2 separate regions of the Homo sapiens genome follow, and region 2 is linked to region 1. The links come from fine-mapping of genetic effects on gene expression. Tissue or cell type: monocytes after interferon gamma. Region 1 holds a variant in brackets; the other region holds the start of a gene. All regions are shown on one strand. Distances are from middle to middle.

Region 1 (11,084 bases):
TCACACCATTGTACTCCAGCCTGGGCAACAAGAGCAAGAATTCATCTCAAAAGAAAAAAAAAAGAACTTAAGCATAAGCCACAAATAAGGTTTATCATTACCTCATCAATGCTTGGATACTTACATTTATCAAGTTATTACATTTTGCTGTGTAAAAAATATTATGTATGGTGAAAGGGGGATATATATATATTATGTATTAAAATATGTATTATATATTATATATTAAACATAATATAATTATATATAATTATATATTAAACATAATATATTATATATTAAATATATAATTATAATATATATTTAATATATATGTATAATATATAATTATATATTATATATAATATGTTATATGTTTATAAACATATACATGTTATATATATTATATATTTCCTATATATTTAATATATAATATATATAATTATACATTGTAATATATAATATAATATAATATATATATACTTAAGGATGCTGTGCATCAAGCCTGAATTTTTTTTTTTTTTTTGAGATGGAGTTTCGCTCTGTCTCCAGGCTGGAGTGTAATGGTGCGAACTCTGCTCACAGTAACCTCTGCCTCCTAGGTTCAAGCGATTCTCCTCCCTCAGCCTCCCAAGTAGCTGGTATTACAGGCACCCACCACCATGCCCAGCTAATTTTTTTTGTATTTTTAGTAGAGATGGGGTTTCGCCATGTTGGCCAGGCTGGTCTCAAACTCCCAACCTGAAGTGATCCACCCACCTCGGCCTCCCAAAGTGCTGGGACTACAGGCATGAAACAACGTGCTCGGCCCAAGCCTGAATTTTCTTTTGCATTTCCAGTAGTTTTGCCATCTTTGTTATTCAGCAAAGAGATGTTTTTGTTTTCGTTTTTGTTTTTTTGAGACAGAGTCTGGCTGTGTCACCCAGGCTGGAGTGCAGTGGTGTGATCTCAACTCACTGCAACCTCTGCCTCCCAGGTTCAAGTGAGTCTCCTGCCTCAGCCTCCCAAGTAGCTGGGACTACAGGCGCCCTCCACCACTCCTGTCTAATTTTTTTTTTTTTTTGTATTTTTAGTAGAGACGGGGTTTCACTATGCTGGCCAGGCTGGTCTTGAACTCCTGTTGTGATCCACCACGCCCAGCCAAAGAGCTGTTTTTGTTAAAGTTTGCTTGTCCCAGGCTGGGCGCAGTGGCTCACGCCTGTAACCCCAGCACTTTGGGAGACTGAGGCAGACTGATCACTCGAGCCCAGGCGTTCAAGACCAGCCTGGCCAACATGACAAAACCCTGTCTCCACTAAAAACACAAAAGTTAGCCAGGTGTGGTGGCACGTGCCTGTAATCCCAGCTACTCGGGAGGCTGAGGCAGGAGAATCGCTTGAACCCGGGAGGCAGAGGTTGCAGTGAGCTGGGATCGTGCCACTGCACTCCAGTCTGGGCGACAGAGCCACACTCGGTCTTAAAAAAGAAAAAAAGTCCTTGTCCCTCTGCTTGTAAGTACCACCAAAGGGCTATATTAACTGACTATTGGCCAGGCATGGTGGCTCACGCCTGTAATCCCAGCTACTTGAGAGGCTGAGGCAGGAGGCAGAGGTTGCAGTGAGCTGAGATCGCACTATTGCACTCCAGCCTCGGAGACAGAGCAAGACTCTGTCCCTAAAAATAAATGAATAAATAAATAAAATAACTGACCATTGTGCCTGGCACTTAGTAGATGCTCAATATACATATATGAATAAATGAACTTCTCATTTTCCTCACTAATAAAAGCAGATATTAATGCCTATCAAATAACTAAATGGATTGCTGGCAGAATCAAAGAAGCTTGCACAAATCACTGGATAAATCACTAGGTGCAGTTATTTCCCTGAGGCTAGGACTGTTAGAGTTCTTCTCGCTGGGAATTTCCTGTGCTCAGGACAAGGCTCTGCCCACAAGGGCATCCGGACCCCATGGCGGAAAGAGGATATCCAGACCTTCAGATCACTCTACCTCCTGCTCTTTGCTATTTTCCTTACCAACAGAACAGCTAGGGAAGAGACAGCAGTAGGATTAGTCCTGGTTCCACAGAAACCGAGCCTGATTTGGGTAAATCAATCACTTTGAAGACACAATAATTGGATTTGAGTGGAGAACAATTCTGACAATAATCCAAGTTACCCAAAACAGGAACATTTGTGCAAATGGTGGCCTTTAATACCAAGAAAGACCATGACAAGTGACAGAACAGGAGCAAATTCCCTAGTGTAGTGCCGAGCTAGCCTTTTGCAGGACCCTAAAACCTGATCTAGTAACAGAATAAATCAGTGTATTTACATTTATGTTTGCCCTGAAAACCCAGGTAAGGTCTGAAGCCTGAGGCATCTCTCCTTCCTTTCCTCCTCCCTCTCTTCCTACCTCCTTGCCTTCTTTCACTTCCTCAATTCATTCCTCTCCCTTCTCCCTTCCTCTCTCTTCCTTTTTTTCCTTTCTGCTTTTCCCTTTTCTCCTTTTTCTCCTCATTCTCTTTACCATCTACCTATGTGACCCTCCAAGCCCCTCTGCTATTTCTCCCCTGCTCACTCCCTCTGCCGTTGTCTCCCTCAGGTTCAGCTTCCGGGGTGGGGAGGCAAGAAAGGGTCCTCAGCCCAGGGAGCACTTGTTGGTGTTCTTCTTGTCACAAGTTTTCAGGTCAGTACTGGGAGGCTTGTTGCCGTTTCCCTAGAGGGAGAAGGGCACAGGTGTCATGGTGTGAATGGATGGTTAGGGTAGGAGGGTATAAACTGTTTAAAGTAAATCCACCCTCATGAGAAATCTTAGCATTGCTCCCCGTTTTTATCAACACCAACACACACACACACACACACACACACACACACATACATACACACACACACACCCCAGAGTTGTACCTAGTCCAGCAAAACCAACTTACTGATCTCCGGCCTCCTGACTTGAGCAAGATGTCCCGGGCCAGGGAACTAAAAGCCTAAAGTGGGGAACAGAGTCAGTTTGGAGGGAGGAGAATCTACCTTCTAATACTTCCTCTCTTGGTCGGGGATGGGGGTGTGGATCTCACCTCATCCACATTCATACTGGATTTAGCACTAGTTTCGAAAAATCGGATTCCATGCTCTCGAGCCAACTATAAGGGGTGAAGTGGGAAGAGAATTGAATTAAGGACAGCAGCCAAGTCCTCTGCAATGCAACCTATCTTGGCCCTCCCAGCCCAGTTCTAGAACATTGCTCAGCCTGGCCCTCACCTTATCGGCCTGCTCCTTCTGCACCTTCCTCTTGGCCTCCATGTCACATTTGTTCCCCAGCAAGAGGCGCTCCACCCCAGCCGAGGCATTCTGGGGGCAAAAGACAAGTAAAAGTTAGGTCCTGCCGGCTGGGAGCGGTGGCTCACGCCTGTAATCCCAGCACTTTGGGAGGCCAAGGCGGGTGGATCACCTGATGCAGGAGTTCAAGATCAGCCTGACCAACATGGAGAAAACCCGTCTCTACTAAAAATGCAAAATTAGCCGAGCATGGTGGTGCATGCCTGTAATCCCAGCTACTTGGGAGGCTGAGGCAGGAAAATCGTTTGAACCTGGGAGGCAGAGGTTGCAGTGAGCCGAGATCCTGCCATTGCACTCCAGCCCGGGCAACAAGAGCAAAACTTCATCTCAAAAAAAAAAAAGTTAGGTCTTGCCTATCCTGATGGACCCCTTCATTCTCCAGGTTCTAACCAGTTTCCCCATCTCTTTTGGAGGGTCCTCACCTCCTTGATGCTTTTCATCCAGTTCTGAATATTCTCGAAAGATTTCTCATCCGTGATGTCGTATACTAGGATAATGCCCTGGGAGATGACAAAATTCACCTTGGACCATGTTCCCATTGAGGCTTCCCACTGCCCTGTAAGTGACCCCGCATCCATGGGTCTAAACACTAGGCCATGTTGGGCCCTCTGCAACCCACACTGCACCCCTCCCATTTTTACCTGCCCCAACCCCTGACCCTTTGTATTCATAATATATTCTGTAGCCTCATCCTTCATCCTTTGTTCAGACCCACACTTCATACCATGGCTCCACGGTAGTAGGCAGTAGTTATTGTCTTGAACCGCTCTTGGCCAGCCGTGTCCCTAAAGAAGGAGAAGTTTTCATGGGATGGAATAGAGGGAAGAATTCTCCAACGGAATAATTCTTCCTCTCTCACAAGAATTTAGCTTTTGTAACATGGTGGGGCAACAGAATAAGGAAACAGTAAAGGGGAACGGGATTAAAGACAGTTGAGCTGATTTCCAGAGATGGTAGTGGCCCAAGAAACAAGATGTCTTTGCTTATTCATTGAATGTTTGCTATGTGTCAAGCACTGTGTATGTATCATTTTATCTAATCCTTACTCTTTCCTTGTAAGACATGTATTATTGTCTCTATTTTAAAAATGAGGAAACACGCCAGGTGCCGTGGCTTGCGTCTATAATCCCAACACTTTGGGAGGCTGAGGCGGGTGGATCACCTGAGGTCAGGAGTTCAAGACCAGCCTGGCCAACATGGTGAAACCTCGTCTCTACTAAAAATACAAAAATTAGCCCGGCCTAGTGGCGGGCGCCTGTAATCCCAGCTACTTGGGAGGCTGAGGTCGGAGAATCACTTGAACCCAGGAGGCGGAGGTTAAAGTGAGCCTAGATTGTGCCATTGCACTCCAGCCTGGGTGACAAGAGCAAAACTCTGTCT[CA/C]AAAAAAAAAAAAAAAAAAAAAGAGGAAACAGATTTGGATAGGCTGAATAATTAATGAAGGTCAGGCAGGAGATAACTAAAAGAACCAGATTTGCGCACCAGTCTGCTCTTATATGTCATAGCATAATGCCTCCACTAAGCTTCATACCACTTAAACACCTTCAGGGTCTATATTTGGCTCTCTGGGCTCACCATATTTTGGAGAAAACACTAGACTTAGAGTCAAGTCTTAATTCTGCCTTTGCCATTTAACTGCTCACAGCCTGTTTCCATGTTATGACTGAACAGTTGTTTGTTGTCAAATTAAGAGGATGCTCTGCAGCCAGAGGAGGCAAGAGTTACAAAAGAGTTGGAACTAGTTGGGAGAGCAGGAAGAGAGATGGAAGGACAGCTGAGTGCATCCGGAGAAATGCCAGAAGTGCTCCTTCTAGCACTTCTAGAAGGAGCAATGGGGAAAGGAAGAGAAATGAAACAAAATAGAAGGAAAAACGTGTAGGAGGTAAATGGGGAAGTCTGGCGAGGCATCCCAGAGGACTGACTTACCAGACTTGTAGTTTGATCTTCTTCCCCTCTATATCCACAGTGCGGATCTTGAAATCAATTCCTAGGGGTGGAAGGTATGCACTGAAGTTGAGACATGCATGCACACATGTAAAACTGTGTGATGGAAGGGACAGGAACGGAGCAGTGCTGGCACCAGAAATTCTGCAGGGGAGGCACTTGGGGAACAATCTTGTTGGAAATGCCAAGCTAGGAGAATTTTCCCAAAGCTGTATTTGTATAGCAAGAATACTATTTTTACGTACATTTTATGGATTTTGGGAGGGAAAAGGTGACGAAAATTCTGCATGGAGGCTTAAAATCCTTAGGCTGCCTCTTGGGTCCATTCAGTTATACCAGCTGACAACTCTCTGAATTCAGTCTCTGTCTCCCCCCAGATATTACTTTCACATTCCTCTTCTCTGTTTTCTTAGAGCCCTCTACTCTTGGTATCCCACCTACCCTCCTAGTAGAGAGTAAGGAAAAAAGTAGCTGAAGCCAGTCTATGTGAATTAACTAGTGGGCCAAACTTGGCACTAGGAAAGTCTGAGGCTAAACAGGATTACTTTTGAGACAATTAGGAAAGAGGGGCATTTTTCCTTTTCCTTTGTAACCAGAATTGTCGTGAGACTCTTCCTGTCTATTTCCCAAGCCAGAGGAGATGAAGAAAGAAGAGAAGGGAGGAGGGGAGACAATGTTCTTCTTAGTAGAAACTTGGGCACCTCCCCCAAGCCTGCTGGGGGCCCCTGGGAGGAGGATGAGTCACCAGGCTGACTCAGAGACCCCAAAAGTCCCCTCATTTCCACGTTCCTCACCAAGCTGGCTGCATATTCATGATCACAGTCCTTGGGCCACCCTCCAGCACACCCAGCCACCTTGTTCCACCCTTCCCAAACCCTTGTTCAGCTGAGGTGCAGGGAGACTGGGGCAGGGAACCTGGGAAGTAGATGGTGAGGTGGGGACACAGTGGGAGAGTTTGAAGCTCAGCAAGACAGAAAGAGGCTAGCATCGGATCGGGAGAAAAAGATGTGGCGGACAGGGATACAGGAAACATGGAGATAGGATCGAGAGAGTTCTAGGTGGTGGGGGTAGGGGAAGAGGGGAACAGAGAAAAATAGAGAAGAGTTCTTGTGGATTTGGGGAGACTAAGGCGATGGTACCAAGAAAATGAGGAGCTGGCAGCAGTTGAAGAGTTACCTGAAGGCCTCAGAGAGGTGAGAGGTTTGGTTACTATACAGAGACATGCACGGGGGAAGGGTCAGAGCCAGGGGTTGAGGGACTAGAATTTAGGAGCCTTACTCTAAGGGGACTGAAAAGTGGGGTCACTAGTAATCCGGGAGCCGGAGAAGGAGGTCACAGGAGAGTCGGGGTCTGGGACATGGCCAGCGGGCTCACCGATGGTGGAGATGTAAGTGTTGTTGAAGTTGTCCTCTGCAAAGCGAATGATCAGACAAGTCTTGCCCACCCCCGAGTCCCCGATCAGCAGCAACTTGAAGAGGTGGTCGTAGGCTTTGGCCATGGCGGACACCGGGGGAGCCGGGGGAGGGGTGGGGAGCGCCCGGCACTGGTAGGCGGGACTGGACGGTTGGCAAACAGAGCGGCACGGAGCCCAGGCCAGGAAGAAGTTTTCCTCCCTCTCCGCCCAGGCTCCGGGAAAGAGGAGAGGCGGCACCCCTCCGGGCTCCACCCCCTGCCCGCCCACCCTTTTGAGCAGGCCAAGGCTGCCAGCCCGGCCTCTGTTCTCTCGGTTTTCCCTTCCTAGCTTAGGCCGGCCTGTCTCTCTCGCTATTTTCCACAGCCTTTCGGTAATTGTAGCTCCCCTCTTAGGACCTTACTCTTCCATTCTGAGGCCAGAGAGGCTGGGGTGAAGGGAAGTAGAGGTTTAACCACGACGACCAGAAATTTTAGAAGAGAAATTTTAGAGGGATTAGGGGAAGAGAACCAAGAGTTTTGGGAATAAGGGTGAAGGTAGGGAGAGCACTAGAAATTGAAAAAAAAAAATGGGGCTGAGTTTTGGAGATGCTATTCAACGAAGCTAGAAGATGAGTTATCATCGGTTTCTGGGGCTGAGTAAAAGGCAGTCCTAGAATTTTACTGTTAGTTGTCCAAGCCCTTAGTTCTATGGGTCCCAATTCACTTTGAAAAAAGCGGGATGCGCAGAAGTAGGTTATTTGTTGAGTCAGTCTGCCCCCTGGTGGAACAGGGTGAAAACGTAAATTAGTTATACAGAATCGGCCCCACCACCCCAACACACACAGCCTACCTAGACACATCCTGGGGCTTCAGTTGGAACGATCTCTCTTATGGGGACCCATGTGTGATTTCTCTGACCAAATAGCTTAGGAAAACAGAGATTTGAACTAAAAATGTCATTCTTTACGTGAATCTTTTAATATGGCCCACTTAAGGTGCAGTACTCCTGAAATCTCACTCAATAGGCCATGAATGTGTAGCCTTGGTAACCAGGAAGCTGAAATATGAACAGCACGGGTATAAAGAAACAAGTTTGCCGGGCGCGGTGGCTCACGCCTGTAATCCCAGCACTTTGGGAGGCCGAGGCGGGCGGATCACGAGGTCAGGAGATCGAGACCATCCTGGCTAACATGGTGAAACCCCATCTCTACTAAAAATACACACACACACACAAAATTAGCCGGGCGTGGTGGCAGGCGACTGTAGTCCTAGCCACTTGGGAGGCTGAGGCAGGAGAATGGCGTGAACCCGGGAGGCAGAGCTTGCAGTGAGCCGAGATTGCGCCACTGCACTCCAGCTTGGGCGACAGAGCCAGACTCCGTCTCAAAAAAAAAAAAAAAAGAAAGAAAGAAAGAGAGTAAAAGAGAAACAAGTTTATCTCTGCCTTTAGAAAAAAATTATTCTTGCTATATGTGTGCTGGGGGTGGAAAAAAATACGAAACACGAAAGAAAGAAAATATTATCTAAGACCTGTTGCGGTGGCTCACACTTGTAATCCCAGCACTTTGGGAGGCCAACGTGAGAGGATCCCTTAAGCCCAGGAGTTCAAGACCAGCTTGGGCAACATAGTGAGACTGCTTCGACAAAAAAAAAAAAAAAAAAAAAAAAAAATTAGCCATACATGGTGGTGTGGCCTGTAGTCCCAGCCGCAGCTACTTGGGGGACAGAAGTGGGCAGAACACTTGAGCCCAAGAGTCCAAGGCTGTAGTGAGCCACGATTATGATGCCACTGCTCTCCAGCCTCGGTGATAGAGTAAGATCCTGTTTCAAAAAAATTTTTTATTTATTTTTTAATTAATTAATTAATTTTTTTGAGACAGAGTCTTGCTCTGTCGCCAGGCTGGAGTGCAGTGGCGCAATCTCGGCTCACTGCAACCTCCGCCTCCCGAATTCAAGCGATTCTTGTGCCTCAGCCTCTGGAGTACCTGTAATCCTCTGGGATTACAGGTGCCCGACACCACGCCCAGCTAATTTTTGTATTTTTAGTAGAGATGGGGTTTCACCATGTTGGCCAGATGGTCTCGATCTCTTGACCTTCTGATCCGCCCGCCTCGGCCTCCCAAAGTGCTGGGATTACAGTCGTGAGCCACCACGCCTGGCCCTATTTTTTTTTTTTTTTTGAGACGGAGTCTTGCTCTGTCGACCTAGGCTGGGGTGCAGTGGCGCGATCTCGGTTCACTGCAAGCTCCGCCTCCTGGGTTCACGCCATTCTCCCGCCTCAGCCTCCTGAGTAGCTGGGACTACAGGCGCCCGCCACCACCCGGCTAATTTTTTGTATTTTAGGGAGAGACGGGGTTTCACCGTGTTAGCCAGGATGGTTTTGATCTCCTGACCTCGTGATCTGCCCGCCTTGGCCTCCCAAAGTGCTGGGTTTACAGGCGTAAGCCACCGCGCCCGGCCTATTTTTATTTTTATTTTTTTAATTTTTATTGTTTATTTTGAGGTGGAGTTTCGCTCTTGTTGCGTAGGCTGGGGTGCAATGGTGTGATCTGGGCTAACCGCAGCTTCCGCCTCCCTGGTTCAAGCGATTCTCCTGCCTCAGCCTCGCGAGTAGCTGAAATTACAGACACCCGCACTACCCCCTGCTAATTTTGTATTTTTAGTAGAGACGAGCTTTCTCCATGTTGGTCAGGCTGCTCTCGAACTCCCGACCTCAGGTGATCCACCCACCTCTGCCTCCCAAAGGCCTGGGATTACAGGCGTGAGCCACTGCGCCCAACCTTTGTTTTTACTTTTATTTTATTTTTTGAGACAAAGTTTTGCTCGTCACCCAGGCAGAAGTGCAATGGCTCAATCTCTGGTCACTGCAACCTCCGCCTCTTGGGTTCAAGCGATTCTCCAGCCTCAGCTTCCCGAGTAGCTGGGATTACAGGCGCCTGCCACGACGCCCAGCTAAATTTTTTTTTTTTTTTTTTTTTTTTAGTCGAGACGGGGTTTCACCATGTTGGCCACGCTGGTCTCGAACTCCCGACGTCACGTGATCCGCCCGCCTCAGCCTCCCAAAGTGCTGGGATTACAGGCCTGAGCCACCGCGACCGGCAAAGAAAAAATTATTATTATTATTATTATTATTATTTGAGACGGAGTCTCGCTCTGTCGCCCAGGCTGCAGTGCAGCGGCGCGATCTCCGCTCACTGCAAGCTCCGCCTCCCGGGTTCACGCCATTCTCCTGTCTCAGCCTCCCGAGTAGCTGGGACTACAGGCGCCCGCCACCGCGCCCGGCTAATTTTTTGTATTTTTAGTAGAGGCGGGGTTTCACCGTGCTAGCCAGGATGGTCTCGATCTCCTAACCTCGTGATCCACCCGCCTCGGCCTCCCAAAGTGCTGGGATTACAGGCGTGAGCCACGGCGCCCGGGCAAGAAAAAATTATTCAAGGGAGTCTCTCTCGAGCCTATTCTGGCTGCCTATAAAAAATTAAAGGCCGGACGCGGTGTCTCACGCCTGTATTCTCAGCACTTTGGGAGACCGAGGCAGGTGGATCACGTGAGGTCGGGAGTTCAATACCAGCTTGGCCAACATGGTGAAACCCCGTCTCTACTAAAAATACAAAATTAGCCGGGCATGGTGCCGCATGCCTGTAATCCCAGCTACTCGGGAGGCTGAGGCAGGAGAATCGCTTGAACGCGGGAGGCGGAGGTTGTGGTGAGCCGAGATGGCGCCATCACACTACAGCCTGGGCAACAAGAGCAAAACTGTGTCTAAAAAAAAAATAAAAATAAAAATAAAAAAAAAGAAGGCATCTTTCACTTATCCCCATCACCTTCCGTGTCCATGCTTGTCCCTTCTCAAGCTAAACTATTCAATCTCTTTTTGTCCATTCTCTCACCTCTCATTATCTCCTTGAGTCTTCCCTATTTCTTTTCACTGACCAAACCATGTCTCCCCTGTTTATTTATTTATTTAAGACAGAGTCTTGTTCTGTCACCCAGGCTGGAGTGGATCTCGGCTCACTGTACTTCCGCCTCCCAGGTTCATGCGATTCTCCTGCCTCAGCCTCCAGAGTAGCTGGGATTACAGGCACACGCCACCACGCCTGGCTAATTTTCGTATTTTTAGTAGAGACGGGGTTTCACTATGTTGGCCAGGCTGGTCTTGAACTGCTGACCTCAGGTGATCCACCCGCCTTGGCCTCCCTAAGTGCTGGGATTACAGGCATGAGCCACTGCGCCCGGCCTAAACTGTTAAATTAAACCAATAGAAAAAGAGTTAAGAATATAGGTATTTAAAAAATAGGACGGAAGTCCTGGATATGGCTCCTTCTCCCTGGTGTTTTCCTCAACCTTTCCTATTTATTAGGCTCCAACTGTCAAGGTATGGCACAAAATTTTAAAAGTGTCCATTTATCCCTGGATAGTGATCAAACGCTGACCTCAAATTAGCAAGGTAACCCTCT
Region 2 (11,084 bases), 22 kb before region 1:
TTCAGAGGCAGCCTGGCAGAGGCCTGAAAGTTCTTTCAAGAACTCCTAGGAATGAATATTCTCAACACATAGAAGACCCTCCAAGGCACCCTACACACTAACCCACAAAGCAGCCAACTCCCTAGAAAGCTCAGCAAACCATAGAGTTCCACACAACTTATGGTCGGACGGTTACCCAGTTGTCGGATTCAAAACCCTACCTCTCCTCCAAGGAGGCCAGGACAAAACACCAAGCAATGGACCTCACCTTCATTCACGTCAGGAAACCACAAGAAGTATTTGAAAAAGGAAGCAAAAGGACGGGACGCAGGAGGGGACTTCCTGCCCCACTATACACAGCACCGCTCGTTCAAACCACTCAAGGGGCCCTTTCCCGGGGGCACCAAAGCGCAGAAGGCAGAGGGACCAGTTTGGAGGAGATCACAAACTCAGAGGAGCCAGGTTACAGACAAGCAGCCCTCCTCCCAGGCCATACCCCAATACCAGGCATGCTTCAGTAGCGTCCTCGAGGGGACTCCGTCAGGGATGCACAAGGACCACTCACCTCCTACCTCCGCCGGACTTCATCTCCCCTCTCCGCCCACTCCCACCTCACGTACTCGGCCCCCAGTCGCCTCTACACCCCGAACCTCTCCGGTGTTTCGGTCTCCCCCGGCAAAATCCTTCTTCCTGCCCCTCGGCCCTCAACCTGCGCCTCCCAAACGGCGGCGCCCGCGTCCCCTGCTCTGTTCCGCCTCCTTCGCTGCGGCGCCCGCCCCCGCCCCGCCTCTCCGGTCTCCGCTCCGTAACTGCTCAGCTCTGCTCCGGCTCCCCGGCGCGGCCCCTCACCCGGGTGGAGCCGATGTCCATCATCACCTCCTCGAAGGCCGCCGTCTCCTCGGCCTGACGCTGCTTCTGCAGCGCAATCTTCTCACTAAATTTGCGCGGATTGGAAGCCGAGGCCGTGGCCGAACCAGGCCCGTTCGCCCCCGACGTCGCCATCTTCCTTCCCCGTCCCTCCCTGCCACCCTCCCAGTACCAGCCGCGGCCTCCGCCGCGGCCTCGGCCCGGCTCCTCCAGCCGTAGCCACCGCCGCCTCAGCGAGCACCGCGAACCCGGCCCCAGCCTAGCCCTGACCTGTTGCGCGCGGGGGCCGCCGGGAATTGTAGTTTGTTTACGAGACTCCTTCACATCCCCAGTCACGCAGCACTAGGAGGAAACGGACTCCACTTCCCAGCAGCCCTGCTGACTCCGGAAACTGGGGACTTGGCTCCACCCTCTCGGCTACTCCCTGAGAGGTGCAAGCTGGGAAGAGTAGTTCTAAATTAGCCCTGAGACTACGAACGGAAAGGAGAGAGGGATTGAAGAGAGAAGAAAGGAAGAGGGAGGGGAGGGAAGAGAAGGGAAGCCGAGGGGTGGAGACCGGGAAAGAAGTACCAAGACACAAAGGAGGAAAAATTAGGTCATCTTCAGGGAAGGGGACTATCGGGTCCTGAGTGAAAACAGTGAGACCAAGAATCTTAAAACAGCTGTAAACATCTGGGACTCAGGCCCTCTCAGGCTGGCCACATGCCCACCCCTTTCCCAAAACAAACGAATCAGATACTGTACAGATGTCTAGAAACATCTTTTATTTGGGTAACAGGTCCCAAAACAGGTCAGTTAATAAAATAGATTCTAAAGAATATGTCCCTATGCACAGCCCTCCCTCCCCAAAAATAACGCTGGGGGTAGGCATTGCCCTTCCCCCTTGGGCTCCTCGGGTGTATTTAAAAAAATGTTTTGGCAGCTCAGTGTTTATCATCTGGGCATGGGACACCATGTCCATGTCCCCATATTCCTAGGGTACAGCAGCAGTAGATGGCTGCAACAACCTTCCTCCTACCCCAGCCCAGAAAATATTTCTGCCCCACCCCAGGATCCGGGACCAAAATAAAGAGCAAGCAGGCCCCCTTCACTGAGGTGCTGGGTAGGGCTCAGTGCCACATTACTGTGCTTTGAGAAAGAGGAAGGGGATTTGTTTGGCACTTTAAAAATAGAGGAGTAAGCAGGACTGGAGAGGCCAGAGAAGATACCAAAATTGGCAGGGAGAGACCATTTGGCGCCAGTCCCCTAGGAGATGGGAGGAGGGAGATAGGTATGAGGGTAGGCGCTAAGAAGAGTAGGAGGGGTCCACTCCAAGTGGCAGGGTGCTGAAATGGGCTAGGACCAACAGGACACTGACTCTAGGTTTATGACCTGTCCATACCCGTTCCACAGCAGCTGGGTACCCACCTCCAGCCTCCCATGTGAGCCTGTCCTTATGTATAGTGTCCAACCTCTGATTCTAGCAGTCAAGTGTCTTCCCCAATCCTAATGTCCCCTGATATGTCTCTAGCGACTTGACCATCTCTTGTTCCTTGGGACTGGGGCCAGCCTCTTGTCTGCCCACTTCCCTCTCATTAGTCAGATAGCCCCAAAGGCTCTATCTTTAGCTCCCAGAGAACTTTTTGGTCCTCAGTATTTCCCTTCCCCTTTCCTTCCTATTCCCCACAACTGGGGGAGGGAAGGGAGAACAGGGGCACCTGATCATCAATCTCCCCTGCCCCTCTCTTGAAGCCCCCTAGATTTGGATGAAGAGCAGGCCAGTGAGCAGGGCAAAGCCTGCTAGGAGCAGAATGACCTTGAGGATCCTTTGCTCAGAACTGGCCAGCTCCTGGGGCAGGATTTCCAGAAAGGTGATATAGAGAAAGGTGCCAGCTGCCATGCCCTCTAGCACAGACTGGGCCAGCTGGTGCAGAGGTCCTGCCGACTCTGCCAGAGCTGCACCCAGCCCGATGCCTAGAGGTGTCATGCATGAGAAGAGGATCCCACAGCCAGCCACCACCTGTGCCCTAAGGTGGCTCTGCAACAGCCGCAGGGACAGGCTGACAGCCAGGATGCCCTTGTGGAGCAGCAAAGCCAGGCACAGCTCCATGGCCCGAGCCCGGTCTCGCTGCAGCCCTACCGCCAGCCCCTCGAACACGGAGTGGAGGGCCAGGGAGAACACCAGTACACAGGCACGCAAGGCTGAGGGGGTTGCTGGGGCTCCACTCGCCTGTGGGACCCCTGGCCCATCATGCCAATGCTGCGGCCCACCATTCACTGTTCCCAGCAGAGCCCTTGTTTCCTCCAGAGGTGACGGCCCTGACTGCTCCTTGTAAGCCAGTGTGATCTGCTCCATCACCAGGACCAGGAAGAAGCCCATGGCCAGGATGAACTCTTGCAGTGGGAACTGGAGCTGTGGGCAGAAGCAGCAGCAAAATGTTCAGGGAAGGAAGAGTGAGATGCAAAATCTGGTGAAAGCCCAGTTACACAGACCTAGGGTCTGACACAGACACAGGGCTACTCTCAGTCACACAAAGATAGAGTGAATTGGTAACACTGACACAGAATGATACGTACACACAGATTATGGTGTCACTCACAGTGTTACGTGTAGACCAAAGTTTCTCAGCTTTGGAACTATTAACATTTTGGGGCCAGGGGCAGTGGCTCATGCCTATAATCCCAGCACTTTGGAAGACCAAAGTGGGAAGATCACTTGAGGTCAGGAGTTTGAGACCAGCCTGGCCAACATGGTGAAACCCTGTCTCTACTAAAAATACAAAAATTGGCAGGGTGTGGTGGTGGATGCCTGTAATCCCAGCTACTCAGGAGTCTGAGCCAGGAGAATCACTTGAACCCAGGAGCCAGAGATTGCAGTGAGTCGAGATTGTGCCACTGCACTCCAGCCTGGGCAACAGAGCAAGACTCTTTCTCAAAAACAAAACAAAACAAAAACAAACAAACAAAAACATTTTGGGCCAGATAATTCTTTGTCATGGGAGCTGTCTTGTGCACTGTAGATTGTTTAACAGCATTTCTGATCTCTACTTACCAGATGCCAATAGCAGGCACAATGTTCCCTCCATCCCCCTCCCCATTGTGACAACTAAAAATATCCCCAGACATTACCAAATGTTTCCTGAGGGGCAAAGCCACACTCCTAGTTGAGAGTCACTGATGTAGACATACATGAAAAGGTCACACATTGCCCATCTCCCCAAATACTCATACATAGAGCCACATATCACAGGACATTCAGGCTTATACGCAGTCACACGGAAACACAGGTCACTCAGTCACAGACACACAAAGGGATACATCCAGTGTTACTTCCTCAGTTTTAGAGGAAAAAAGGAAAGAGCCCAGGATGACTTTCCTGCCCCACTATCCAACGGCCTCAGTTTTTCCTATAATAAACCAAGTCCTATGCCGTGGACTTGATCATTCCTCACAGCCCACTTCCTTGGGCCAAAGCCTAAAAAGGTTAGCAACACCAAGACCCAGGGAATCGCTTCCTATCCTTCTCAGGCCTACAGAGACCTCTATCTCCAGCCCTTTAGGAAAGTGGTGAGAGAGTGAAGATGATTCTTGGAGCACTTGCTGGTAGCTAGAACTGAGAACCCATAGAGCAAGTCACACACCTGAGAAAAAGTGTCTTACTGTCTCAACGGGAATGTAGGGGTCACACAGGGAATGGGGAAGGGGGAGGGAACACATAGAAAGAATTATGCCCCATAACCAAAAATCACAATTCATACCACATGCCAAAAGTCTTCCACACAGTCATGGAGTGGCACATGAATCAATCTCCACAAACCAACACTCCCAGAGGTGTGTGATTCCCCTCCCGCAAGTCACATGCCCAGGCCAGTGCTCACCGTCACGTGCAAGGCTGCCAGGGCCTCATCTATGGCAGCCAGGTAGTCAGGCAGCAGGTCCAGGAGACAAGTGGCCAAAAAGACGCCCCCCGCGAAACAGCTTACTAGGCTCAGGGCTTTCTGGCGGGAAGCTGGGTAGGGGTGAAGCACAGAGGGGAATAAGCAAACAAACCCCCTCCAGGGCCGACCACCCCAACCCAAACAATGGCTACCCTTGCCTTTCCCTCCTCCTTTGGTCACTCCCCGCCAGCCCCAGAGCCCTCCCTAAGCCAAGCATTCATAGCAGTGTGGGGAAAAGGAGAGGCTTACCTGAGCCTTCATGGTTAGCTCCTGGCCGGCGCAGCACACAGATGGGCACCAGGCTGCAGAGGAGGGTGAGCACCAGCAGCAGCACCAGGGCCCCCAACTTCACCTCCAGCCCCACAGGCACTGGAGGCTCTGAAGCTACCGCCTCGGGGCGCCACACCAGGAGCTCTGGCTCTCCCCAGGGCCCCATGATGCTTCTGGTAGCTCCAGTGACTCTCAGACCTAGGAAGACAGACCAGAGTGGTTGGGAAAAATCATGCAAAGGAAGATGGGGCAAGGAATGGGGAAGCTTGGTCAGCAGAGTGCAGCTCCCTGGCCCCAGCCACTTTGTGACCTTCCCCTACCCAGGGTGACTCATCTACTCCTGTACCAGGAACATTCCTCTCTTCTCACACTTTCTTTCCCAAGTGACTTATTCAGGGAGACTGCACGGGGGAAACCGAGGCATGAGAAAGGCTGTATGGATATCTCATCACCCTTTCACCTGGTGCCCCCAGAAAACTAGGAAACTAGGAGCCGCCTCCAAATAGGACCTGGAGCTGGAGTTCCCCTAAGGAATGTAGAGGCCGGGTCCCCAACTCCCGAACGGAGTGGGTGAAGCCAAAAAGGCTAGGGCTGTGCAGAGATGTCTTGGGTAGCTTCGTGGGCCACCTGGACAGGGTAAGTTTGGGTGCTGGATCGCTCCATCGTTCCCCTTTTCCCAGCGCAGAGAACAAGCGCTTCAGGCCCCAGGATGGGACCTAGAGGCAGATGGCCAAAGAGAGGGGCCCTAAGAGTCTGCGGTCCCGGGACGGACTGAGGCGACACTGAGGGCGGTGCCTGAAAGTCCGGGCTCCAGGAGGCGGGGTGCGAGGCCGCCAAGCGTCGCGGGAAGCAGATGAAGAATGCGTGAGCTGGGACTCCTGTTCCCGGGCCCGGGGAGGCCTGGGCAGCCGACATGGACCCCGCTGCCAGACAGCCCGCACTCACCTCGCGAGGGTCTCACTACATGGTCTCCGCGCGCTTCCGGCCTAGAGTCGGGAATTCCCGCCCCCTCCCATAGCTCCCCCCTCCCCCACAGGAGCCGCGTACCCACGACCGACTGCCAATGGCAGCACCGAGTGGGCGGGGACAGACCGGGAGTGACGTCAGTTAGGAGCAATCAGAGATCGGGAGCGGGAGCGGGCGGAGCAGGCGACCTGAGGAGAGTGAGCGAGAGCAAGAGCGGATATTAGGAAAAGGACCTCGGGGCTGGGGCCCTGGGGCGCATCTGTGGAGGACTGAGGGGCCGGAGCGGGCCAGTCAACAAAGGCTTTGATTATATGGATATTTTTAAAAGAGGGAGACCCCGCATTGTCAAGTCTTCCGGCCCACATCTGAAAACATCTTCCTGGCCTTGGGCCAAAGTCTCATCTGTCCCTCAGAAGGCTCTGACACCTCGTCAGTGCCTCTTGGCGCCCAAGGGAAAGCATTCCCCTCTTGGGACCAACTTCCTTGACTGCTTTCCCTCACCAGCACCCACAACAAGGAAAAAGACAAGGCAGAATTGGAAAGGGGGGAAAGCAAAGAGAGGGTATGTCTTGAAAATCATCCCTTCTCGACTACTTATGGCACTCAGTGCAGCCTCCGCCTTCTCCAGGTGGGTGGGGACGTGGTGGGACCGGAATGCGGGGTGCTGAAGCCGCGCCCAGGGAAGAGCCCCCAGCGCATTCCAGGATATCTGCGTACCGCGCCTGCGGGCGTCTGGCCGGTTCTCCCACCTGATTTCCAGCCCAGCTCCCGCCACCCTCGCCGGTCGGTTTGCTGTTTGCTGTTCCTTGAATGCCCCAAGGTAGTTGTTTCAGCTCAGGACTTTCACCGTTTCCTCAACCTGGATTCTTGTGGCCCACAACTCTGTGCCTTGAGAATCCTCTTCTAGCCTCAAGGGACGGTAAGACAAAAGAAAATTTAAAAAGGGGGCTCAGCTGTTCTTTTATGCAAAGGTGAAAAAAGCTTCATTGCCTAAAGAAGGGACAGATGGGATCTTGCTTCCTACAGGAAAATTAATTTTAAAAAAGAAAAAAAAAAGGGGGGACAGTGTAATGCTTCTCACAAGGCTCCAGAAACGAAGCCCAGTAATTCCTTAAGTAAAAGAGGAATGTGAAGACTTCTTAAGGGGCCGGGCGCGGTGGTTCACGCCTGTAATCCAAGCACTTTGGAAGGCCGAGGATGAATCACCTGAGGACAGAAGTTCAAGACCAGCCTGGTCAACATGGTGAAACCCCGTCTCTACTAAATATACAAAAATTAGCCGGGCGTGGTGGCGGGGGCCTGTAATCCCAGCTACTCGGGAGGCCGAGGCAGGAGAATCGCTTGAACCCGGGAGCCGGAAATTGCAGTGAGCCGAGATCGCGCCATTGCGCTCCAGCCTGGGCAACAACAGCGAAACTTCGTCTCAAAAAAAAAAATTATTCGTAATTGGTAACATTAACAAGGAATTATGACTGGGGGGGTCAGGAAACCTGGATTCTGGTCCAAGTTCTACCTTTATAGTTGTCAAATATATATATTTGTTTATTTATACACATACATATGTCATATATGATTAATAATTGTATATATTTATGGTGTACAACATGATGTTTTGAAATATATGTACATTGGGCCGGGCGCGGTGGCTCACGCCTGTAATCCCAGCACTTTGGGAAGCCGAGGCGGGCAGATGACGAGGTCAGGAGTTGGAGACCAGCCTGCTCAACATGGTGAAACCCTGTCTCTACTAAAAATACAAAAATTAGCCAGGCGTGGTGGCGCATGCCTATGATCCCAGCTACTCAGGAGGCTGAGGCAGGAGAATCGCTTGAACCGGGGAGGCGGAGGTTGCAGTGAGCCAAGATCACACCTCTGCACTCCAGCCTGGACGACACAGCGAGACTCCGTCTCAAAAAAAAAGAAAAAAGAAAAGAAATATATGTACATTGCAGAATGGGTAAATCAAGCTAATTAACATATGCATTACTTCACATATTTATTTGTGATGAGAACATTTAAAATCTCTTGGCAACTTTATTTCTTTTCTTTTTCCTTCCTTCCTTCCTTTCTTCTTTCCTCCTTTCTTTCTTGACAGAGTCTTGCTGTGTTGCCCAGGCTGGAATGCAGTGGCATGCTCTTGGCTCACTACAACTTCTGCCTCCCAGGTTTCAAGCAATTCTCCCGCCTCGGCCTCCCGAGTAGCTGGGATTACAGGCGCCCGCCACCACGCCCGGCTAATTTTTGTATTTTTAGTAGAGACGGGATTTCACCATGTTGACCAGGCTGGTCTTGAACTCCTGACCTCAGGTGATCCACCCGCTTCAGCCTCCCAAAGTGCTGGGACTGCAGGTGTGAGCCACCACACCCGGCCCAATAGATCTCCTCAATTTTACCTTACCTTGATGTATGATTTTAGGCAAGTCAGTTTTCCTCACCAGAGTTTGATAAATCAGGGGCAAGGAGGAAGTTAAACAAGCAGATGACTGCAGAGGGTCCTTCCAGTTCTAACATCAACGGAAGCTAACTACATTCCCCACTCAAATCATCTCTGCACATACAGCCCGCAGGAAGCCCTTTGAAATGTATTTAACCACCTTTCTCGCTCTCAGAATGATCTCAACAAGAACAGCTTTGCTTTCCTTGGAGCTCTGCATCAATCTAGGAAGGCTGCTTTGTCTCTTCACTACTTGAGCAGGATGGAGAGATATGAGCGGGAAAGACAGATAAGAAATCTGAGAAAGCCCCACAAGGTGGGTTGATAGTGTGAAGAACATGGGCTGAAGCATCCAAATCTTGGTTCAGCTACTTACAGGGTAACCTTGAGAAAGTTACTTAAACTTGTCAGCTCGGACGGGCGTGGTGGCTCACGCCTGTAATCCCAGCACATTGGGAGGCCGAGGTGGACGGATCACGAGGTCAGATCGAGACCACCCTGGCTAACACGGTGAAACCCTGTCTCTACTAAAAATACAAAAAAATTAGCTGGGCGCCTGTAGTCCCAGCTACTAGGGAGGCTGAGGCAGGAGAATGGCGTGAACCCGGGAGGCGGAGCTTGCAGTGAGCCGAGATCGAGCCTCTGCACTCCAGCCTGGGCCACAGAGCAAAAGAAAAACAAACAAACAAACTTGTCAGCTCCATCTGCTGTAAGAATTATATGAGTAACATGGAAATGCCTGACTAGACCCTGTTCCCGTTTTTACCCTTAGCCCGTTCAAATCTTCATAAGGATAATTAGTAGCAGTTTGAGTTCTGGGATTCACACTCCAAACTACTGTTTTACTCACCCAGCTACCCTTTTCTGAAATACTACTGAAAACCATACCTGTATCAGTTTACCTCCATTGTTTTACTTGAAGTGAATTCCTGGACCATCAGACATTAGACCAAGGCAAAAAAATAAAAATAATCAATCAACCCTGAGTTTTGGTATTACTACTTTCTAGTCATGGATCTGCCTCCTCATAGGTAAAATTTGCAAAATATTACCCGCCGTGTGTGCCTCAGAACTGTTATGGATTAAGGAAGAGAACAATTTTTATGAAAACGTTTTGTAAATTATACAAGTGTGGGACATAATGTTCCCGGTAACTGTATGCAAACAATAAGACAACAAACGCAAAAGGCTTTTTAACTTGTTGCAGTTTTCCTGCCCCGTGTCCCTCCGTGAATGAGCAGCGTGCAGCGAGCGTGTGCGCACAGCTGCTGTTCTCCATTAACGCCACACTGCTCGGCTTGCGGACGGGGAAACCCGCCATCGCGCTCCTGCCGCCTGCCGAGCGAGGATCACCGCTCCACTGGGGTCAGCGGGCTGTTGACTCCCCGCCTGGGTGAAACCGGAGCTTCCGAGTCACGTGGCGCGCGAAGACAAACCTGGCTGCTCAGGGTTTCCCGGAGCTTTCTCCCAGCTTCCCGGCGATTCATATTCTGGCGCTTACCCCTCCCTTTAGGCTGGCGGAACCCAATCCCCGCCTGACAAATAAGTCCCGCCGGCCGGACGCAGTGGCTCGCGCCTGTGGTCCTAGCTGCTCGCGGTGCTGAGGCGGGAGAATCACCTGAGCCCGGGAGGTCGGGGGCTGCATGGAACCGTGATCGCACCACCGCACTCCAGCCTGGGCAACAGAGCGAGACCCTGTCTCCAAAAATAAGAATAAAGAAAAAAAAAAGAAAGAACTGCGGCCCCATTGGCCTGACTCTCCTGAACAGCCAAACTGTCTCCGACCAGTTACGGAAGAGGCGGCCTTGAGAGGGTAGTGTGCCATTGGCTCGATGTCCTGCCCCTCCGAAACCTAAGTCTTCAGCTTCCAATCAGGACTCAGCTTTGGGAAGAGCGCCACGCGGTGGGCGAGGGGATGCCCTAGTAAATTCGCAGGTCTCTTGACTCTTTCCGCCTTTGTTTACAACCCTGCCATGATCTCCCTCTTGCAAAAGCGAGGGCTACAGAACAGGCATTCAGGAGTCCTGTGCTCCAGTCACAGCCTTTTCTGTTCTTCAGCTAGGAGACACCAAACCCTCAGGAAGATTTACTATAGCTAAGAGAAAACTGCAGCAGAAAGGGCGCGGCTACCTACTTCTTAAATTCCGTTTGTGGACCCTCAGACTCTTAGTCCCCTACTCCCAGATACAGCGGCCCTACCGTGGCTCCTGGCAAGGTGGCATCCACTTTTGTAGTGTAAGGCTGGGGGCGGGGTTTGGCTGGCAGGTCCAGGATACGAGATCCTGGAAGAAAGAAAAGGTGTAGTGTTTGGGGAGGTCAACGGGCTATGCTGGCTTGACAGGGCTGGGCTCTTCAGAACAGGTAATGCTTGGGGGGGGCCTCTTTGTCTAAACCTGAGGGATAGGGCTGAAGGTGAAATATCGAGGGGACAGGTGAGGGGGCTTGCTAGTGAGGAAGGAGTGGGGGGGCGGGGATAATGGAAAAGGGAGCAGAGGAGCCCAGAAACTGTAGGGGGTAGTAAGCAGCCATCATTCCGTTTCTGCAACCCTCCGTCCCACACGCCTTCCTGCAGAAGCATGGATCTCGGAATCCCTGACCTGCTGGACGCGTGGCTGGAGCCCCCAGAGGATATCTTCTCGACAGGATCCGTC

Which allele goes with the higher level. Alleles are on the strand shown, and positions count from the first base shown. SD is a standard deviation of normalised expression in the study named.
For the expression in monocytes after interferon gamma of the gene that starts at base 6,021 in region 2, allele CA in region 1 goes with a lower level than allele C (large effect, 0.81 SD a copy in Fairfax 2014).

Evidence for each region.
Region 2: SLC39A1 starts here. The variant in region 1 is fine-mapped to the expression of SLC39A1 in monocytes after interferon gamma (Fairfax 2014, PIP 0.95).

The regions. Positions count from the first base shown.
Region 1 is chr1:153,979,501-153,990,584 of GRCh38, forward strand. It overlaps RAB13 (RAB13, member RAS oncogene family), which reads right to left and starts at 6,839. Exons shown (of 8, transcript NM_002870.5): 1 at 6,613-6,839; 2 at 5,221-5,281; 3 at 4,021-4,081; 4 at 3,719-3,796; 5 at 3,219-3,308; 6 at 3,035-3,100; 7 at 2,891-2,944; 8 at 2,150-2,676. The coding sequence starts at 6,736. The coding sequence ends at 2,599. RefSeq lists enhancers at 5,898-6,127, 6,441-6,942, 10,987-11,084 and a silencer at 6,754-6,923. The variant CA/C (reference allele first, on the strand shown) is at 4,677.
Region 2 is chr1:153,957,517-153,968,600 of GRCh38, forward strand. SLC39A1 (solute carrier family 39 member 1) reads right to left here and starts at 6,021. Exons shown (of 4, transcript NM_001271958.2): 1 at 5,979-6,021; 2 at 5,013-5,231; 3 at 4,704-4,834; 4 at 1,594-3,238. The coding sequence starts at 5,199. The coding sequence ends at 2,582. MIR6737 (microRNA 6737) reads right to left here and starts at 4,904; the gene lies at 4,835-4,904. It overlaps CRTC2 (CREB regulated transcription coactivator 2), which reads right to left and starts at 1,096. Exons shown (of 14, transcript NM_181715.3): 1 at 829-1,096. The coding sequence starts at 981. CREB3L4 (cAMP responsive element binding protein 3 like 4) reads left to right here and starts at 10,386. Exons shown (of 10, transcript NM_001255978.2): 1 at 10,386-10,648; 2 at 11,006-11,084. The coding sequence starts at 11,010. RefSeq lists enhancers at 5,305-6,259, 5,588-5,657, 5,609-6,808, 5,698-5,757, 5,908-6,077 and 9 more and silencers at 726-875, 10,143-10,644.